Regions from separate parts of the Homo sapiens genome. Here regions 1, 2 and 4 are each linked to region 3. The links come from fine-mapping of genetic effects on gene expression. A gene starts in region 3. Each other region holds a variant in brackets. All regions are shown on one strand. Distances are between the middles of the regions.

Evidence for each region. PIP is the estimated chance that this variant, and not a neighbour inherited with it, causes the effect. A credible set is the group of variants that fine-mapping cannot tell apart.
Region 1: its variant is the best candidate, but not a certain one, in a credible set for the expression of LINC01948 in whole blood (INTERVAL, PIP 0.87).
Region 2: its variant is the best candidate, but not a certain one, in a credible set for the expression of LINC01948 in whole blood (INTERVAL, PIP 0.79).
Region 4: its variant is the best candidate, but not a certain one, in a credible set for the expression of LINC01948 in unexposed skin (GTEx, PIP 0.74).

The regions. Positions count from the first base shown.
Region 1 is chr5:56,438,951-56,444,300 of GRCh38, forward strand. No RefSeq gene overlaps it. Among named protein-coding and RNA genes, the nearest start is that of LINC01948, 40 kb to the right of the region's middle. The variant CT/C (reference allele first, on the strand shown) is at 2,662.
Region 2 is chr5:56,422,632-56,427,981 of GRCh38, forward strand. No RefSeq gene overlaps it. Among named protein-coding and RNA genes, the nearest start is that of LINC01948, 56 kb to the right of the region's middle. The variant T/C (reference allele first, on the strand shown) is at 3,291.
Region 3 is chr5:56,479,461-56,484,810 of GRCh38, forward strand. It overlaps LINC01948 (long intergenic non-protein coding RNA 1948), which reads right to left and starts at 2,309. Exons shown (of 5, transcript NR_104664.1): 1 at 2,093-2,309. RefSeq lists enhancers at 708-877, 2,078-2,237.
Region 4 is chr5:56,453,900-56,459,249 of GRCh38, forward strand. It overlaps LINC01948 (long intergenic non-protein coding RNA 1948), which reads right to left. Exons shown (of 5, transcript NR_104664.1): 5 at 3,896-4,044. Among named protein-coding and RNA genes, the nearest start is that of LINC01948, 25 kb to the right of the region's middle. The variant G/C (reference allele first, on the strand shown) is at 2,598.

The DNA.
Region 1 (5,350 bases), 41 kb before region 3:
ATCGCTTAACAATGGGGATATCTTCTTTCTTTCTTTCTTTTTTTTTTTTTTCGTGATGGAGTTTCGCTCTGTCGCCCAGGCTGGAGTGCAGTGGCGTGATCTCAGCTCACTGCAACCTCCGCCTCCCAGGTTCAAGCGATTCTCCTGCCTTGGCCTCCTGAGTGGCTGGGATTACAGGGACCTGCCATCATGCCCAGCTAATTTTTGTATTTTAATAGAGACACGGTTTCACCATGTTGGCCACGCTGGTCTTGAACTCCTGACCTCAGGTGATCTGCCCACCTCGGCCTCCCAGGGTTCTGGGATTACAGGTGTGAGTCACTGCGCACGGCCACAATGGGGACACTTTCTGAGAAGTGCGTCATTAGGTGATTTCGTTGTTGGGTGGCCATTGCAGAGTGTACTTCCACAAGCCTAGAAGTATAGCCTATGACACATCAAGGCTATAAGATACCGCCTATTTCTCTTAGGCTACAAACCTGTGCAGCATGATACTGTGCTGAACACTGGGCAATTGTAACAAAATGGTAAGTGTTTGTGTATCTAAACATATTTACACATAGAAAAGGTACAGTAAAAATATGGTATTATAATCTTATGGGACCAAGGTGATATATGTGGTCTGTTGTTGACCAAAACATTATGTAGTGCATGACTGTAATTGTATTTCTTAAAAGACTATCTGAAACTAATTAGTCAATATATTGAGGTAGCATTTATGTAATCTTGATGGTGAGTACATAGGTGTCTGTTAACTTATTGTCTGTATGTTTGAAATATTTTATAAGTAAAAATACAATTTAGAAAAAGGTGGCATTCAGGCAGTGATTGCCCTAAATGAAACCTAAAACGATCCACAGAGCTTTAAATGCTATTAGAGGAATAGGTTCATTGATTCCATAAATATTTATTGATTGCCTTCCCTACAGTAAGTGTTGTGCTAGGTGCACATGAAACATTAATTGAACCTTGCCCTTGGATTCACTTGCGGGCCATATTACAGCTGGCAGTGATTATGAAGGTCCTTGGAAGTCCAGGTTAGTGTTACCTTATGCTGAATTCTGCTCTATATTAGGCCATCTTGTAGGACCTTTTCAAGTGTACTTTATCTTGATATAAGCCTGGAAAAGCACATTATAATAGCTAATAAGACCTAACGTAACTTATAGAATTCTAGGCATAGCCCTAAGCCTTTGCATGCATTATGTCTTTTTATCCTCACCACAACCTTATGAGGTAGGTACTATCATTACCCTCATTTTATAGATAAAGAAACTGAGGCACAGGAGGTTAATTAATTTGAGTTACGTCACCTAGCTAACTAGTAGAGCCAAAATGTTCACTTTGTCAACTTAACTCCAATGCACATCACTCTTAAGGTCTCTTTTGGTCTGTCTGTCCTTGTGTAGTTACAGTTGAACTTTAAGTTCTCTGGGCAATGCTTCAGGACACCTGTTTTATGTGTTATGGAAGAGCAGGATGCTGGGTCTGGAAAGGACCCTTAAAGTTCATCTGGTCCAGTGGAATGGTAAGGTGTGAGCTTCATGAGAGCAGGAGGTATCTTCATTCCATCATTGATGAGTCCCCCTGCCAGTTACATAGTAGTAGCTCAGTAAGTATTTATTGAAAAAATGAGTGTTGAATAATTTTGTTTTTTAAAGCATTTATTCAAACCTCCAATATTAAACAGATCATATCAGAGATGCTCTGGTTAAAGTTTTTAAGTGGAGGTGGGGCCCAGAGTTCCACAGTCTAGAGCCTGCTCTAGAACTACCCACAGCTTGAAGGCTACTCATCTAATCCAGATCCCTGCAGTACAGATGAAGATGCCTGATGTCCAAGGAGGTTTAGTGTCCTATCAAAGACCACTCTGCTAAGGAGGAACAGAGCTGACTTTTCTGATGCCGAGTCCCAAAGTTCTTTCCCCCACCACAACATAAGGGGGTAGCCTGGCCCCCAGACTCCTTACAACTGAGAATATACTTATAGGAAAACGACAGCTGCTTGGCACATAGATGGTTATGTAATTCAAGTTACTCAAAGACAACCTTAATTTACATGTGATAGCTAAACAAAGATTTTCTGTCTCATAAATTAAGAATGAGCAATTGCATTGTCTACTACCACATCCCATGAAATACCTCTAAACTCAGAGAACTCTTTGTTGGTTTTAAAAGATACCAAGATCCATTTTATTGCTTGTTTGAAGATTATTCATTTTATGGCTGAAGGGAGATTATGGCACTTTTGCTATCCTCCAGCCTTTCCCCCATCCTCCAAGAACCTTTCACCCCACCTGCCTTGCCATGATGAAAATGTTACAGGAAACACTCAGCAAGGGGTTGCTCGGAAGAAACCTGTGTGAGAATGTGTGCCTTCGTTTGGGTATGAGAGGGTATCTACCAGCAGGGATGCCCATCCAATTATCTCTCCCGAAGGCGCACTCCCTATTCTTTTAGGAGCATATTAATCATTTTTACTCTTCCACAGGCATTTCCAGTGTTGTCAAAACAGTGCCTGCCTGCATCTGTTTTCTTCAATTGGCCTGGGTTCCAGGGAGTGTTTGTGAGAGAGGAGAGAACAAGAGATTGACAGTCTTGTGTTGACATTTTGTGGCTGTTTGGAAATGAAAACAATCCAGGTCTGATGTTGTAATTCCTC[CT/C]TTTATGGGCAAAAAGCAATGTCTCAGCATGAATGAGCATAACCGAACACACTAGGACACACCCCAGACACACTGTGTACTCCCGGGACACTCACCATGCTTTTAGTTACTGCTGTTGTAGAATGAAAGGCAGAAAAGGTCTTTTATTGAGCCAAAGAATCAAGAAATCTTTTGATTCTCCATACCCAAATCTCCTACTCCAGTGGGATGAATAAAATGTCAAAGAGAAAAAAAAATCCTGATTTTTTAATTTACTATATATATATGTCTTTTTTTCTTCTTTTCAAACTATAATATTAATCACAACTCAATTTTTAGTTACCCAAGTAATAGATTTTCATTGATAAATATGAAAACAATATAGATAAACAGAACTTCTCTTTACCTATTCCCCTAATCTGACACTGTTCTTCATTGTATATCATTATTATCCCTCCACTGCACATATCTCCAGGCGTTTTCTAAGTATTTACATTCATATATGTCTATTTGCATATAGGAATGCACATATTTATTTGGTGGGAATTTTTGTTTAATATATAAATTGTTTATATGGTACATATTTTACTATGACTAGCTTTTCTAACTTAAATATGTGTTGCATATTTTCTTCATATCAGTATGTATTCATTGATCTTATTTGCTTTAAGAGAAGTATAATCTTTCATAGAATGGATATATGGAAATTTATTTAATTATTTCCCAAATGATGAAAATTTAGATTATTTTCAATTTTTTATGATTACAAGCAATAGTGTGATGAAATTTGTTGTACTTATCTTTTTAAGCACATGTGCCAATGTTTTCTATGGAATAGACATGAAGAAATGAAATTTATGGGTTAAAGGGTAACACTTGCTTTTTAAAAGCAACAATAAAAACTATCTATCTAACTGTCTTAGCTTGAGCTGCCATAACGAAGTATCACAGACCAGGTGGCTTAAACAACAGACATTCATTTCTCACAGTTTTGGAGACTGGTAAGTCCAAGATCAAGATGCCTGCAGATTTGGTTCCTGGTGAGGGCCGTCTTCCTTACTTGCAGATGGCCACCTTTTTGCTGTTTCCTCACATGGTGAAGAGAGAGAAGGCTCTGGCTTATCTTCCTCTTCTTATAAGGACACTAATCCCATCACGGAGAGGGCCCAACTTCATTTAAACCAAATTACTTCCCAAAGACCCTATCTTCAAATACCATCATATTAGGGGTTTGGGTTTCACATATGTATTTTGAGGGTACACAAACATTCAATCCATTATATATCTATTTATCTGAATTGGTAATAAATTCCTACAGAAAAAAATTACAAAGTCAGGATCAAGCGGAATCATAAATCTAAAAGCAGGCAGACAAAAATGGTGGATTTTAATTTAACTATATCAATAATCACATTAACTGTAAATGTTCTAAACACTTTATTAGAAAACATAGATTGTCAGATGGGATTAAAAGAAAATAGCAAGACTCGACTCTATCCTACCTACAAGAAACCCACTTTATATCTAAAGACATAGATAGTTTAAAAGTAAAAGGAGAGAAACAAACAGTAGTCTAACACTAACAAAAAGAAAATCAAAGTGCTTAATAACAAACCGGACTTAAGAACAAGAAATTATTACCGGGGATGAATGGGTATTAGATTATAATAAAGAGGTCAATTCATAAAGAAGACATAATAATCCTAAATGCGTATGCGTCAAACAAAGTAGCTTCAAAATACATGAAACAAAAATTGACAGAATTGAAAGAGTAAATAGACAAATCCAGTTATAGTTGGAGTCTTTAGCACTTCTCTCTCAGTAATCAAATAGAAAAAATAGACAGGAAATTACTAAGAATGTAGATAACCTAAACAGCACTGTCAACCAACTTGACCTAATTGACATTTAGAGAGCGCTTTACTCAGCAACAGTGGTACCTCAAAAATATTAAAAGAATTTAAATCTTCCAAGGTATGCCCTCTGACCATGATAGGGTTAAAGAAGAAATCAATAACAGAAAAAGATTTTTAAAATCCCCTAATATTTGGATATTAAACAACATATTCTAAGTAACCCATGGGTCAAATAGGAATTCACAAGAGAAATTGGAAAACATCTTGAATTGGATAAAAATAAAGATTCAAAAGGTCAAAATTTGTAGTACAGCTAAAGCTGTAATTAGAAGAAAATATGTAGCATTAAATGCTTATGTCAGAAAGGTAATTGGAAAACTCACAAAATTGAAAAGAGCAATGGAGAAACAGAATCACAACAAGCAAGAACAAGGGACGAGGCAGTAGCTAGACACATAGCCACGATCATGCTTCCCAGCAGCTCTGCATCAGTTGCAGGCTACTGGCTGCCACAAGTTGCCTGGAAGCCTCTCTTGGCTCCAGAAATTGGTTCTTACCACCCCAGCTGTTGCCACCCATAACAAGAATGGTTTCCTTCATTTCTTGACACCAGCTCTCTCTTCATAGTCCAGAGCTTGAGAGTCTGATTGGTTGAGCCCAGGCCATGTTCTTCTATCCTAGCTATAAAAGTTGATAGGAGAGTAAGTGGCTTAAGTGTTCAGTTTCTGTGGTGGCAGGCTGTGTCTCCAGTAACAACTCAGAAAGTGAGGATCTCTCCAAACAAAAGAAACAATTTCAGAAAAGTTATCACTGTGCCATGCCACCATCTTTTCCCAGACTCCTGTTTTCCTCC
Region 2 (5,350 bases), 57 kb before region 3:
AATAAGGACACAAGGTTGTTTTTTTTTTTTTTTTTTTTTTTAATGACAGTGAAAGTTGAATGCAACTTTTTTTTATCAGAGAATTTTCAGGTTATTCATTTATTCAAAAAATATTTATTGAGTGCCTGTGACTTGCCAGGTCTCAGCAAAACCATCAATTATCCTGCAGCATTCATGGTTGGAGCTGCGCTCAAGTCTTCTAGGGCCTTACTATTGTAATACTGGCTGCCCACCCAGAACTACCAGCATTTGAACCTCTTTGTCTGGGAGGCTTCCTCTGGTTGCTGGAACCTGTCTGCCCCAGGGCAAGCTGGAAGTGTTGAAGAACTGATGCCTGCCTGCCCATGCCAGCACCTTGCAGCAATGACTGCTCCAGCTCCCTCCAGCTCCCTGGCTCCTCAGGTGGAAAGACCAGCAATGCTCTACACTGGCTCCCAGAGCTCCCCAGTGGGGTAAGCTCCTCTTGCCAACAATTGGAATTTGCTAAGTAGTAATCCCTGTATACTGGCTGCCTTGCCTTCACCAGCTCACTTCTCCATGCCCTTATAAACATTTCCTGGGATCACCTCCCCAAACTACCCGTACTTGAATCCTGTCTCAGGGACTGCTTCGGAGGGACACCCTCTTAGGGTGTCATTGTTTATGTATCTAATATCACTAGTTTAAAAAGAAGTTTTAGAAGAACCCTAAAAATGTTTGAAAAAGAGGGGGTCTATGATCTCAAGAAGCTCCCAGGCTAGCCATCCTTTTTCCCAGAATGAGGGGAGAAAAGTGAGTGTTTTAATACTTATTGCAAAGGAATCTGTATATTAGATTAACCCATATGAAATTGCTGATATTTGGTCATTGTTGACATAAAAATGTCAGTTTCATCTTCTGAGAAATCAAAAAGAAAACAAAAACAAAAATGTCAGTTTCATATGGCTCAATAATACATGGATGGCATTTTTCTTTTCTGAGACAGAGTCTGCAGTGGCCTATCTCTGCTCACTGCAGCCTCCACCTACCGGGCTCAAGCAATTCTCCTGCCTCAGTCTTCCAAGTAGCCAGGACTACAGGTGTGCACCATCACCCTGAGTAATTTTTGTATTTTTACTAGAGATAGGGTTTTGCCATGTTGGCCAGGCTGGTCTCGAACTCCAGGCCTCAAGTGATCTGAATGGCTTGGCCTCCCAAAGTCCTGGGATTACAAGCATCAGCCACTGTGCCCGGCCAATACATGGCAGTTTTCTTGCTTTTCTTGCTTTGTGTTTTTGTTTTTGCTTCCATTTAAGTACCAAATTCTTGCCAACTGACAGAATGAATCACATATTCCAAAGTGGCTGGCTACCATAGCCAACATTGCAGCTGGCAGGATGCAGGAAGAGGGAGAAAGTTTATGCTTCTACCATTAACGATGTTTCAGAGGAGAAACACCTTGTTTCTCCTCAAACCCATTGAGCAGAACTTAGTGGCCACTCCTAGCTGCAAGGGAGTCTTAAACAATGTCATCTTTATTCCAGATAGCCATGTCTAGTTATAATAAAGGCTACTTTCACTATAGAAGAAGGAGTAAACAATATTGGAAGATATCTAGCACTCATGCCTCCCTAATTAAAATTTTTTTTACTAATAAGAAAGCAAACAACCAGAGAGGAAAAAGGGGTCTCCAATGAACCTAACATCAAATGTTTATTTTTCTGCAGTTCTTAGAATTAGAAGGAACATTTAAGATCCTTTGATGGTTTTATTTTATTTTACTTTACTTTATTTTCTATATTTGTGTTGGACCTCAGTTACAGAGGGCTAATTGAATCATCAGTTTAATTTCATGATGTATCACCATCACTCATGCCATGGCCTGCTCTTGTTTCTTATTTATTTATTTATTTTTTCTGTTTTGAGATGGAGTCTCGCTCTGTTGCCCAGATTGGAGTACAGATGCACAATCTTGGCTCACTGCAGCTTCCGCCTCCAGGGTTCAAGCAATTCTCCTGCCTCAGCCTCCCAAATAGCTGGGATTACAGGTGCCCACCATCGCACCCCGCTAATTTTTGTATTTTTAGTAGAGATAGGGTTTCACCATATTGGTCAGGCTGGTCTTGAACTTCTGACCTCAGGTGATCCACCTGCCTTGGCCTACCAAAGTGCCGGGATTACAGGTGTAAGCCACTGAGCTTGGCCACTTGTTTCATTTTGAAATGTATTCCAGGTCATCCTGAATAACTACCCCCATCCCTAGCCCCATCCTCATGTTAGGCTACACCCTGAATGTTTGATATCTATCTTTGAAATTGTGCTTTTCCTTACAAATTATCTGCTATTTTTGCATGTATGTATTTTTACTTTACATACACCGTATTGTGCTAAGAAAAACTTTGTTCTTTCTCTTATTTTTTTTACCCATCATTATGTTTTTAATATTAGTTTGTATCAAATTCTATATTTCACGTTATTTTGCTACACAATTTCTCTGGCTGTGGACTCCTAATTTGCCTCCAATTCCCCACTGCCAAGAAAGCGACACAATGATATGCATGCATACTCGTACTTTTCTGGACCTTTGTGATAATGTTTCAAGGGTTATTTTACTGTACAAAGTAAGATTTATGCACAGTAGTTGACTAGGCACTGCCACCTTGTTCCCCAGAATGTCCACACTGCATTCCCACCAGTGGCACACAAGACTTCGTTTCCTCATACACTGCCTGCCTTCCAAAAAATTTGACATTATTACATTTCTAATTTTATGAATTTGATGAGAATAAAGCATATGTCATTGCTGCTTTAATATGTATTTCTCCACTTACTATTTATTTGTCATATCTTCATATATATGTTAGCAATTGGGTTTTCTCTTCTGTGACTTGTCTTTTTATATCTTGACCATTATTGTCTTGCATTTTTGTCTTTTTCTTATTGATTTGCAGAAATCCTTTCATACTCCCTGTATAAACCCTTTGTCAATTAAGTCATAAAAATATTTTGTTCATGAGGGTAATTCTTTTCCTAATCTGTCATCTATCTCTGTCCATCATTGTTGCGGGTTTTGGGTCTTTTTACAATGCTCTACCCCATTCTCAATTATATTCGTCTACATTTTTTTTTACTAGCTGTATAGTTTTACCTTCACATTTAGGTCTTTGGTCCACTTAGAGTTTTCCTTTGCATTGGTATAAAGTATGAATTTTGTTTTGCTTTTTTAAATATAGTGACTCCGATTTCCTAACACCACTACTAAACAGTCTGTCCTTTCCCTATTGATTTGTATTAGCATTGTTTTCATATATCAAGTTCCCCCATACACTCTA[T/C]GTACTTTCTCTCTCACTCCCTCTGAGATCTTCGTTCCACTCCTTTGGTTATTTGTCTTGAACTCTTAAGTAGTCCCAAGTTTTAAAGTGTATAGAGAGTGTATACACATACACACACACACACACACACACACACACACACACATACACAAAGCAACATAACTGGTCTGGCCTAGAAAATGTGGGACTTGAAAGGAGATTCTGTGCCATGTAAATGGCAAGAAAGTGGGAAACAAGAAGTAAACCAAAATTCCCAGCATCGATCTTTGACCCCAAGAGTGATGTCAATGGTGCCTATACCCAGCTTCCAGGCAGACGGGAACTATATTCCTCTTCTATATTTCTTCTTGCTCCATGTCCACAGATGTAGTTTTGTATTTCATATTTGTCCACTCAACTTTGCTTCATAAAAGTTTGAGATGTCTTACAAAAATGCAGTTAACCAAGCAAAAGATAATAACACTAAAATAAGTGGAGAAAATGAGCCAAGGAAAAAATTAAAATTGCAATTTATTTCATTCAGAGCCCAAGTTAGTTTATAGCAACCTCAACTCACTTTGATTTTTTTTTTCCATTTGTAGTTCCTCTCTTTCTGTGCTTCACAAGGTTGTTCAACTTTTAGTGTTCTTGTTACGTTCTTTAGGAGAGGAAATGAAGACCCCGAAAGCTGCAGGTTTGAAGAGGTTGTTGGACGAAGGAGGTCTAGGTGGTGAGGGGATTGATGAGATGCTGTGCAGTTACCTGATAAAAAGACTGGAGACAAAGACTCAAAGAACTAGGGCTCTTGTCCCTCTTCAGCCACTGACTGGCTGCGACCTTCACTCAAACACAAATCTCTCTTGGCTTTATTGTCCTCAGCTGCCAGTGGGGAGGTTGTCCTCATGGTTCCAAGGTTTCATCCAACGCCAGCATTTTCTGATTCCGCATGCTTTTTTCCTCTGGGGGCATCAGTCACCAGCTCCCTCTGGAGACATTTTACAGCTAATATGCACACCAAGCCAGCTGTTAGTGCTATAACTGGGACATTCCCAGAAGGCTAATTAGCCTGCTCCCCTGGCTCAGAATAATTACTCCACAATATTCACATGACTCTTTTACACCAGGAATTCATCTCCTGTAGAGGGTCTCACAGATGTATCTTACGTATAAAAGAGAAGAAACAGCAAATGCATTCCATAGCCAAGAGCAAATAGCCTCTATAAATTGCATTTTCCAGCAAATATCCAAAAAAGTTAGCACAGAATCAAAGAAACTAAACTGCTCTCACCCAACTGTCCTCTAGTCCTCCAATTTTCTGGTGCCACTCCTTTTCCCAATAACCAAATAAACCTACCTAGGCCTCCACTTGGCACTGACTGCACATTCAGGTATCTCCCAGTTACATCTGTACTCCATCCGGAAGATATTCTAGTTGACATCTCATACTCCTTGCTCCAGCTCCTCCCTGGCTCTTTGGTCACCCCAAATGTTTCATTACTTGGCCTGCCTTGCAGCTCAAAGTGATCTCAGCTGTAGTGGCCAACAGCACAGCCTTACTGAAGGCTGGGGTGTGCCGGAGGGGAACTGTTTCCCAGCATCCAGGAAACAACTCAAAATCAGGATTCAGGCCTAGAACTACCCTGAGAATCCACTGGCCAAACACCATCAAGGGGAGCCTCTTACTGATTTTCTGTCTTCTTGGTCTAGGTCTGCTGAACCCACTTCCAGAAAAGAGACCATTCTCCCATCACTCTGGTCCTCTGCTTCACTCGACATGGCCTCCAAGGCCCTACATGGTTGAATCTCTGCTCTCCTCTGAAAGCTCATCTCCTACTTGTCTGTCCTCGGTCCAGGCCCTGCAGCCACCCGGGCCTTTGGTAGTTCCTAGAGAAGCCCTCTGCCTTCTCCCACCCCAGGACTTTTGCACATGTTGCCTGCAACACTCTCCTTCCCCTTCCCTCCATCTATTATGTACTTAATTCCTATACTTCCTTTAGCTGTCATCTCAGTTACCCCTTCTTCTTGGAAGCCTTTCTGATGGCCTGCACCTAGGTCAGGTTCCTTTGTTACATGCTTGCACA
Region 3 (5,350 bases):
CATTGAAGGTTAGATTTTCAATATCTGAATCTTGGGAGGATGCAAACATTCAGTCCTTAGCAGGTGCTGGAAGTATTAACACAGTGCCCAAAAACGATAGAATATTTTTGGTAGGATGAATCCACTTTCAACCCTGGAAGCCAGGCATTTCAGAGTGGAAAAGAAAAGAGAAGCAATAACTGCACAAATAAGCATCTTATTAAGGAAATCACTAGGTTTTTGAGGGCTGCACATTCTATGCTTTCTAAAGGATGATGTCTCAGCAGGCGGAACGAAGCTAATCTTGCCTGGCTGCACTCTTCTGTTCTGGCAGGGGGCTGGTGCCGCTCCCTGCAGATGCCCACGATGCCAGGCAGCCTGGTTTAGTTTGTGGAACGTGCTCTAATCCGTCAGCACAGCCACAGTAGATACTCTGAAAACTAAGAGAATCACCTTCAGCAGCTTATCGACTAACCACAGGCCCTTATCTCAAATGGGAACTGATTCAAACCGTTATTCAAGCTTATTCAAATGAATTTGAGAGTCTACTAACAGCCCTGGCTACATAATTTGCCGGGTGCAGTTCAAACTGAAAATGCAGGGTCCTTTTCAAAAATTATTAAGCATGTCAACATGGTGTCAGTAGAGCATCCAACTAAGCACACGTCGGCTTCTGAGCACAGGTCACAGGCCCAAAAACCCAGCCATGCCAAGCAATGACTATCCAATAAGTCAAACACCAGGAAACCCCAACCCCTCCACAGCCCTGCGGCTGCTGCAGCAGAAAAACAAAAACAAAACAGACACTCAACACCATCAGCATCAGCTCTTCCCAAACCACCAGCCTTCCTCAGAACCTCCCTCATTTGACCTGTTTTAACTCGTGTTCCCTCGACCTTCAAATTTTCAGTGTCCACAAAGCAGATCAAGGCTATCACAAAACAAAACAAACACCAAAAAGCCAACCCACTGGATCTAGAGACCTACGGACTTGCCCTCCTGATACTTGCAGCTGGTGTTTAAGGACGTGCCTGCCTTGGGCGATGGGCGGGTAGAAACCTCACACACCAAAGCCCATCGAGCTAAACTCAAGGTTGCGAACCCCAACCCCGGTGGGAACACGGTCTGCAGACACGCTCCCTTAAGTCCCTGTCGCACACAATAAATTGCTTTCTGAATATTCCCTTTACAACTGCAAAAAATAGAAATGGCTGTAACTGTGCAGAGAAAGAAAAGAGAAGCTGGGATGAGCTCCATCAGGGGCCGAATCTGCTTCTCGCTGGTGGATACTGTGATAAGAAACCTAGATCTGAACGGCCTCACAATGGCCTATTTATCCGGCTCTTACGCACGGCCGGCAGCCCCGGCTGGGAATCACGGGGGTGGCAGCCGTCCCCGGAAAACGGCGGCATTCCGACACAGGAAAGCCCGCGGATCAACTGATCTGCAGACAACGCTTCTTCCTTCCTGGGAAGCGGCCACAAAGGCAGCCAGCTGACCCCGGCCCAGCGCGGCTCCCGGCCGAGGAGGACAGGGGCGGGGTGGGGAGGGGGGGAATCGTCGCCCGCCCCGCCCCCACCCCCCAAGTTTCCTTTGGCAAAAGCATCCCAGGCGTGGTTCAGGCAGAGTCCACGCCAGCGAGGCTGGGGCCGAAACTCTCCACGCCAGGAAGGCGGGGTAGGCGGACCCGCCGCCCCCAGCCCCGCGCGCCCGCCGCGCCCCCCACGGCCCCCACCAGCTGGCTCTTCCGGCCGGGGCGGCCTTGGCCTGGGGCTGGGGTTGACTTTGGTGGGGGGACAGGAAGGACTGGCACAGCGCCCGCGACTGTCCCCTGAGGAGGACCCTCCCTACGACTTTTGGTCAAAAGCAAAAAGAAACACAGACATGTGCGTCACCCCGGGAAGCGCGCGGGGGTTTCGCTCGCGTTTCAGGAGCCGACTTCGCATCCTCCCTCGGTAGGGGGGTCGGGGGTTCCTAAAATTTACCCCCCAACTTCACTTCTCTGGCGACAGAGCACCTTAACAGTTCATTTCCCTCTCGCTCTCAAGTGAAAACATCTTATTTTTGTGTTAAAATGTATAAAGACACCATGAGAATTGGCAGGAGGTCAAACCGTAGATTCTGAGATGCTCCGGTCGCTCCCCAGGAAGCGCTGTTTTCGGAAGTGTTGACCCAGCAGCTGGTCCCTGCTGCTCTAATGACACGATGTGTGCTTTCACTTTTTCACTCCCAAAACGACGTGGTTTGGAGTCTTGAGAGCCTTGGAAATCGCTGCCCGTGGAGGGAAAGGTCTGGAGAGGCCAGGCCAGGAGAGCAGACATGCTGCAAGAAGCGGAGGCAGCCCTGTGAACTCGCCTGGCTCCGCAGGGAGGGGCGAGGCTGTCCAGGTCGCAGGTGGAGCTGGCCAGCTGCGAGCCAGGATGTCCTTGCTCTTTCCAAATTATACACAGTTTCCACAAGGAAAAAAGAGAGGGGTAGGGGGTCCAGGCAGATCTTCAGCTGTTTGTATACTCTGCACCAGGAGGCGCTATCATCAGCCCGGACCCCTACTCCACAGGACTGAGGAGACCACAATTCTTCCCTCCAGGCAGAATCGTGGACCCAATATTCCCGTCTCCCCGAATTCTCTTAACTCAGTATACTGCCATTAACAGCATAGTCAGCCTTCTGGACTTGAACTCCAGAAGGAATTTTGTCTCATTTAGTGCCTGCAGGGGAGCAGGATGAGATAGTACCTCTTGTACCGGCACAAGGTCTCTGAGTTGACTCTTACATAAACATTGCGCTGTTTCTAGGGACGGCATCATTTCTTGACCTAGAGAAACAAAGATATTGTGGGAAGGACCCCTGATGCTCAGTGGCAGTTTGGAGACCTGGCATTAGCCTTACTCAGTAAGGCTTCCTGATCTAGCAGGACTGATCCAGTCAGCTTTGATGATCCCCTAGCCTGGTACTGGGATTCTTCCAAACACCCATGAGATCACCCACATCTCACAGGGGCTGGTAGTGTTCCAGCAGAGAAAGGTGAGGGTAGCAAGCAGTAGTCACTTTGGGCCTGAAATGAACATCTTGGGGTTTTTATATCTGCCCACCCACTATGGGACATTATTGTCCCTTCCTCTTTGCTACAGTGTTTCCAGAAAATGAGAAGTAGCATCTTCTTAGAAATAGATTGGGTACCCTGTCTTAGACCTAGTTCCTTTTTTTTTGTTTTTTTGAGACGCTGTCTCACTCTGTCTCCCAGGCTGGAGTACAGTGGTGCGATCTGGGCTCACTGCAACCTCCGCCTTGGGGGTTCAAGTAATTCTCCTGCCTCAGCCTCCTGAGTAGCTGGGAATCCAGGTGTGTGCCACCACACTCGGCTAATTTTTGTATTTTTAATAGAGACAGGGTTTCACCATATTGGCCAGGCTACCCTTGAACTCCTGACCTCAAGTGATTCGCCTGCCCCAGCCTCCCAAAGAGCTGGGCAGTTACTTTTATTATAGTTCTAGATAACATAGAAAAGAACATGGAAAGCAGCTATGCAAGCAAAACACAAACACAAACAACCCTGTTAAAAAGTGGGCAAAAGACATGAACAGACACTTCTCAAAAGAAGACATGCAAGCAGCCAACAAATGTGAAAAGATGCTCAGCATTGCTGATTATCAGAGAAATGCAAATCAAAACCACGATGAGATCTCACACCACTCAGAATGACTATTATTAAAAAGTCAAAAAAACAACAGATGCTGGCAAGGCTGTGGAGAAAAGGGAACACATATACATTGCTGGCATTGCTGGTGGGAATGTAAATTAATTCAGCCACTGGGGAAAGTAGTTTGGAGATTTCTCAAATAAAACAAAACTACCATTCGACCCAGCAGCAATCCCATTACTGGTACATATCTAAATGAAAAGAAATCGTTTTACCAAAAAGACATTCATTTTTATGTGCTTCACAGCATTATTCACAATAGCAAAGACATTGACTCAGCCTAGGTGTCCGTCAATGGAAGACTGGTACATATACACCATGGAATACTATGCAGCAATAAAAAAGAAGGAAATCATGTCCTTTGTAGCAACATGGATGCAGCTGGAAGCCACTATTCTAAGCAAATTAATGCAGGAGCAGAAAAACCAAACAGTGCATGTTCTCACTTATATATGGGAGCTACATATTAGGTACACATAGACATAAAGATGGCAACAATAGACACTGGGGGATACTAGAGGGAAGCAAGGGTTGAAAAATAACTATTGGCTACTATGCTCACTGCCTGGGTAACAGGATCATTTTACCCCAGACCTCAGCATCACATGTATATCACACAATATACCCATGTAACAAATCTGCACATGTACCCCTGAATCTAAAATAAAAGTTGAAATTATATATTTAAAAAAAAAAACAGGACAGAACATGAACTATGGTGACTATTTTCAAAGGAGGGAGACTTTGCATTTGCCAGGGTTCAGGTTTTATAATATATTCTTGATATCAATATATTTTAAAAGATATCTGGGTGAAGTTTAAAAATCCCCTGAACACACATTTAATAAGCTATCTCCGAAACCTATTGAGAAAGGCTGTTCTTTGCCTGCCCAGACTCTGCCTCTTCCATTCTGACTGTCCTCACAGCCAATGGGACAACCCGTAAGAATAATGAGCTCTGGCCACCCAGCCCCATCCATGGTCAATGCCTCTTGCGGAACCCATTGTCTTTGCCTTATAGGATTGCAGACCTGGCCTCCGACTCCTAATGGCTTGCTCTATTTCCTGCTTGCACTCTGCCTCTCTCCATCTAATGGCGGAGCCTCCCTGGCTCCAACCCCCTGTGCTTTCCCTTAATGTCCTGCTCTTCCAGACACTCCAGTAACTTCCTTGCCCAACCTGTTGGCTTCCATGGCAAGTGCTCCTGGAAAACCTGATCGGCCCCTGCTCCTCTAAAGGGGTTCTGACACACGCTCCCCTTCAAGTTGCTATAGGACATCAGACACCAAGATTGTGGGCAATTACTACCATAAATAAATGCACAAGAATACCACGGTTCTGTTTGAAGAAAGTGATTAGGATTCAAGACCGTCTACACATAACGGTCTATATAATGGCTTCTTGCTTAGACTTGGTCACTTCCAGAGTCTTCTGTCCACCTCTCTCCCATCCCCCTCCTGCTTCCCCATTAGTTTAGTAAAATGTGCTTTGCAGAGAGCCCAGTTAGTGCCTTCCTACAACTGAGGATTAATGAGGCAGCAGAGAGGTCCAGGCCCCCACTTATTGTCCCTCCCATCCACTGGGCAGTTCCTCCACTCCACTGAGTCAGGAAGGAGAAAATTCTAACCACCAGGACTATTTTTTTTTTTTAACATCAAAGTCCTGCTGAAT
Region 4 (5,350 bases), 26 kb before region 3:
AAATTCTTAACTATTGAGGCTGCACAGAAACAGGCAAAGGCCTGGATCTAGCCCATGGCCTGTGGTTTGCTGACCCCTGGGCTAGAAGATCAAGTAAACAAATCTTGAAAAAATACCAAAAGAGAAATTGTCATAGTGCCCCATCCAGTGCCTTGATCACAGTAGGTACTCAATGAATGAATGAACAGATACTGAGTTCCAGGAGAGACAGAAGACACATGCACCCCACATATCCTAGAGCTGAGTCTGCTGCTGTGGGTAAAATACAAACACTCCCATCTCTCCTTTTGAATGTGAGACCGGGCATAATCACAGGACGTTCAGGTGACCCAGAGCTCAGACTCCAGCGCCTTCCACATTTCCCTCAGGCTCCAAAGCAAAAGCACGGTATAATTACAAGGGCCATGTTGCAGTTTAGGTCAATCCAGCGCATGTTATCTGATAAATGAATTCCAAAGCCAAGCGAAACTCTCAGCAGTCTTTCCCCAAGATGCTGGGCTCAGCATCAGCGTTCAGTTCTCCTTAATTACAGGTTGGCTTGTTTTGTTGCGCAATAGTGCCCCAGCCCGGATGAATGTCATTTCCTTTCTTGGTAGGTGAAATGGATGAGGTGAGAAAGGCCCGGACCACACCGAGAATCGAATGCATGGTAAACATAGGGCCACGGGGAAGTCTTGACACCGCTCGGCAAGATCTCTCACCGATGGATCCACCCTCTATGTTTTCTGATTGGACACATTTCCTGAGATGGGAAGGATCATGCTATTGGCTGAGGCTGCATCAGGGGAGTAATATTTACTCTGGAAAATCTGGGAGAGGGTGTCCCAGTCTGTGAACTACCCAGACCCCCACGTTCACAGAATACTAGGATGAGGAGGATCCCAAGGAACACCTGCATCAACTCTCATGTTCTACAAGGGAAGAAGCCAGGTCTCAGGGACATTAAATCACTTTCCCAAATGTACCAAGCTAGTTAGAGTGAAGAAAGATCCTATTTATCCCAGTTCCCAGTGAAATGCCATTTCTGCTCCATACCTTCTCTTCTCCATGTGTCCTATGCTCTCGCACTTTTTGTGCTGCTTAGCGTTTTGCCCAGAGGTGTGCCAGAGATTATTGCTCATTCTTTCTCCTTCCACGGTCACAACACCTCCCTGGGCTGGTGTCACCTCTTACTTTGCAATTCAAAACGTTGAAGAAGGTGCGACCTGTCTAGATTTTCGTGTAGCCTTCTCTCCTGATTGCTGTTTCAGATAACACATTCAGGGTGTTGGTAAATAGCTGTGAATCAGAGCCTCGGGGACAGCCTGGTTTGGTGTGTGGATAGTCTGGCTAATGTCATAGCAGTCCCTGCCTTAAATATCAATGTCCGAGGAAGGTGGGATGCTGTTTCCAAAAGATTGATTTGCACTTCTGCTAATATATGGCTGAGTGTTCTTTAAAATGGAGTATTCTGCTTGCCCTCTGCCACCTTCACAACACCCTAAATCTTTGGAAGAACGTGCTTCTTGTTGGACCTACAAGTGGGGAGCATCTTGCCTTGTCCGGCCTGTCCCAGTTTCTCGGGAACCCTTGAGGTTTCTGTCCCTGTTCCACATACTTAGCCCCATCTCCAGGCTTCCTGTCCATCAGCCTGAGAGACCATACTCTAGGAGTCTTAAGTGCTGAGTTCCCTAGTGGGAACTCACTGGACTGCAACGCCCCAAGTCCCTCCTTCTCTCTCTGTGCCTTGGGATGGGCTTTGTGCCAGCTGTGCCCATCCTGCTGTTCTGCAGCTTGGTGCCCCTTCCTAACGTGATGGGCCTCTGCTAAGGTCATGTTCTTTCACCAACCCAGGGTCCTTCCAGCTCCTCCACCAAAACAGTGCCCTGGTTGTCCTCACTTGTCCCATCTTCAGCAGGGAGGCACTTGATTCTGTGGCATTTGGCACTGCTCACTGGGCTTTCTTTTCTTTTCACTGTAAGACTCATGCATTAGATCTGTCTTGCTATAGTCCTAACAATGTCTCTGTGTCCCCACTCCCATTCAACTCTTGCCATTCTCCAGCCATTGCTCTTGAAGAATGTGGGACTAATAACCCTGGGTAGGGTCACAAGGCCCTGCAGAGGTGATGCCATGAAGTTGCCTACACAGAACTGCCTCCCTGCTAAGAGTTCCAGGATCAAATTCTTCTAGGTGCCTGCTTGGGTGGGTCCTCATCCCCACCCCTGCCCAGGGCACCATCTGTGGGAGATTAGGAGGTAATCACTGTCTACCCCTCAGACACCACGTGCTGCATGACTGTGTCCTGAGGCAGCCACATGGCTGCCAGCTCTGAAGGTCCTGAGATCCCCATTCTGAGGCCCTTCGCTGACTCACTGCTCTCATTCTTCTTTCTCTGTCCACTCTCAGGGCAACTACATCCACACGGTGAAGGCAGGGCCTGTGTAGTGGATGCCAGGCTGTCTTCACGTACATTTCTCTTTCTCTTAAGCATCCTGGACCATAAAGCCCTAGTGTGCTGCTCCTACCTTGCCAGTAGGACTCCTGTCTCAGCTCCGTCTCCTGAAGACTGACCCTACAGGAGAGATACAAGCATCTCCTGTTACCTGTGCCCAGAT[G/C]GTCCTTAAAAAATCATTTTCCTATTTGATAAACATAAAAATGTTATGTCTGACCAGCCAACAGGCTCTAGACCTGAGCCATCTAGGAAGATGAGGCCCCACCCCTAACTGGTGCCCTCTTTGCAGATTCACTGATGCAGATTCTTGTCAGCAGAGATAACTTGTCAAATTTTACTTTCATCAAGAGAAATATAATTAGAGTGATGTACTTTTCATTTCTAAATTATGAAATTCTATTATAATGTGAAATATGTATTTTCAAAGTATACATACATTTCCTTTTAGAAATGTTGATATACCTCCCTAGGAACTTTCCTTCCTTTTGTTAGAAAATCAATGCTGTAAAATGTTAGGGAACAAAAGAAAGGTATGGAGGAAGATCAACCTTGTGGGACCCAGGAAGAAGCAGGGAAGAAGAATCCCACTATGAAACTACCTTTCCAGGACAAATAATGTTCTCAGAAATGGGCATGTACTTTGTCTCCAGGCAGATAGCCTGCCCATTACATTTTTGTTTTGTTTTGTTTTGTTTTGTTTTGTTTGAGACGGAGTCTCACTCTGTCACCTAGGCTGGAGTACAGTGGCACGATCTCGGCTCACTGCAGCCTCCACCTCCTGGGTTCAAGCGATTCTCCTGCCTCAGCCTCCTGAGTAGCTGGGACTACAGGTGCCTGCCACCATGCCCAGCTAATTGTTGTATATATTTTTTAGTAGAGATGTGGTTTCACCATGTTGGCCAGGCTGGTCTCGAACTCTTGACTTCAAGTGATATGCCTACCTCGACCTCCCATTACGTTTTAAATAGCACAGCTCTCTGCTACGTTGTATATTTCCCAAATAAAAAGTTTTCAGCTCAATCTCTAGAAAAGCTCTGCTTTATCAACTTTCTGTTTCTCATGCCATGAGTTGACTATGACTCTCTCACGCACCTGCCAATCAGTTTTATCACTTGCCATTAGGAGGTCCTTGGGAAGCAATGGGAAAGCTCCCCAGTCCAGAGAAACTAACTTCAGGCATGTGTCTGAACTCAGAGGCTCCAACCAAGAGCAGGGAAGGGCCTTGTGGGAGGTGAGTGCATTTTGGATATGGGGAGCAAGGCTGGTGGGATTCTGCTAACGAAACTGATCACAGGTGACAGGGCTCTCCTTTGAACTTGATTATTTTTAAAGTTCACCTCTCCCTGATCCATAACGAGGTCTGGTGAGACTTGTCATAGTCCCAGAATTATTTCGATCATTCCAGCTCAGCCGAAACAATGAGAGAACATCAATATGGCAACTCCTCAGATGTCTGGGAAGAGGGATCATCACCCAGGCCTGGGAGCTCTGCGCAGTTTTGTCTGCCTTGGCTCCAAAGTGCTCTTTGCCCTTAACACTGCACCACTGTACAGATTCACACAGCTGGCACTAGCTCCACAGTGGCTAAGGTTGTGCTGCTTAGGACTGACCTGGAGGAGAGGGGAGAAAAAGATGGTATTAGTGGCTCCCTTTCATGTCAACAGGTTCACTGAAAAAGGAGCAAAGGGCTTAGTCATGTTTTAATGCTCTCAAAGCTTACTATGTATCCAGGATATTTTGGGTTATATTTAGTATTTGATTCACGTTTCAATTATTTTAGCAGTAGACAAAGCAAAAGCTGAGTGAGTCCCATGCAGTAAAATCCTAAAAGCTTTTCCCAACCTAAAGACAGCCCATAACTTTCAGCTTACATTTTACATGAGGAAAAACAAATGTTTCAGTGAAGCGTCCCAAATTCTTAGAAGAATCAGAGATAAGAAGCTCCCGCCAGCAATTTCAGTGTCCCTGGCCCAATTTAGTGGTTTGTGCCTTGGCAGAGCTCCTACTAACAGGACAGAGGACTCTTTGGGAAGACAGAGCCCATTTGAAAGGCGAGTGTTATTTATAAATTATCTCCAGATGGTCCAGTTCCTACAATTCCTACGTTGCTCAGACTCTCAGAGTGGAAATTTTAATCATAGACTGTTTGAGGTTGATTTGGTCTAAGCGAGGGACAATTTTGAGGATTCAAACGACAAAAAGAAGGCAGAAGAGTTATCTCTTGAGACTGCTCTCCGGAGACCTGCCCTTGCTTGTGGAGCCTTAGTTAATCACCATTTGTTTTCTGCTTTGCAATTCACAAAGCCCTTTTCTCAGAGTTTCAGACAGGCCTCCTCCCTTTGCACCTGGGAGAAACTACTGAAAACATCCTCCAGGGTAGGAACCACACTGAATATTTAATTTACCTTTTTAAAACATCTAATACATATTAGATGTATAGATATTATATAAAAGACACAGGTTAGGTATTAGAACTCCAATCCTACCTGTTTCTCTTAAGCACGTCCCCACATCAGGAACTGTTGTCTGATCTACACTTAGCCTGCCTGCCTACCTGCCTTCTTTCCTTCCTTCCTTCCTTCTTTCCCTCCCTCCCTCCCTCCCTCCTTCCTTCCTTCCTTCTTCTTTCCCTCCTTCCCTCCTTCCCTTCCTTCCTTCCCTCTTTCTGTACTTCAATCTTTCCACCAGTCAGTCCTTCCATTATTTCTTTCATTTATCCAGCAAATGTTTATGAAGAACTTACTATGTGCCAGGGATGGGGTTAGCTATGGCTCAGAATTCAGAACACACTTTATATCTCAGTGGAGAAAGAAGTAGCATGTGAGCCCTGCCCACCACAGACCTCTGCAGAACCTCATGAATTCCAGCCAACATATGACAGTCCACATATGCAAAGGAAAAAACCCTTGCCATGCT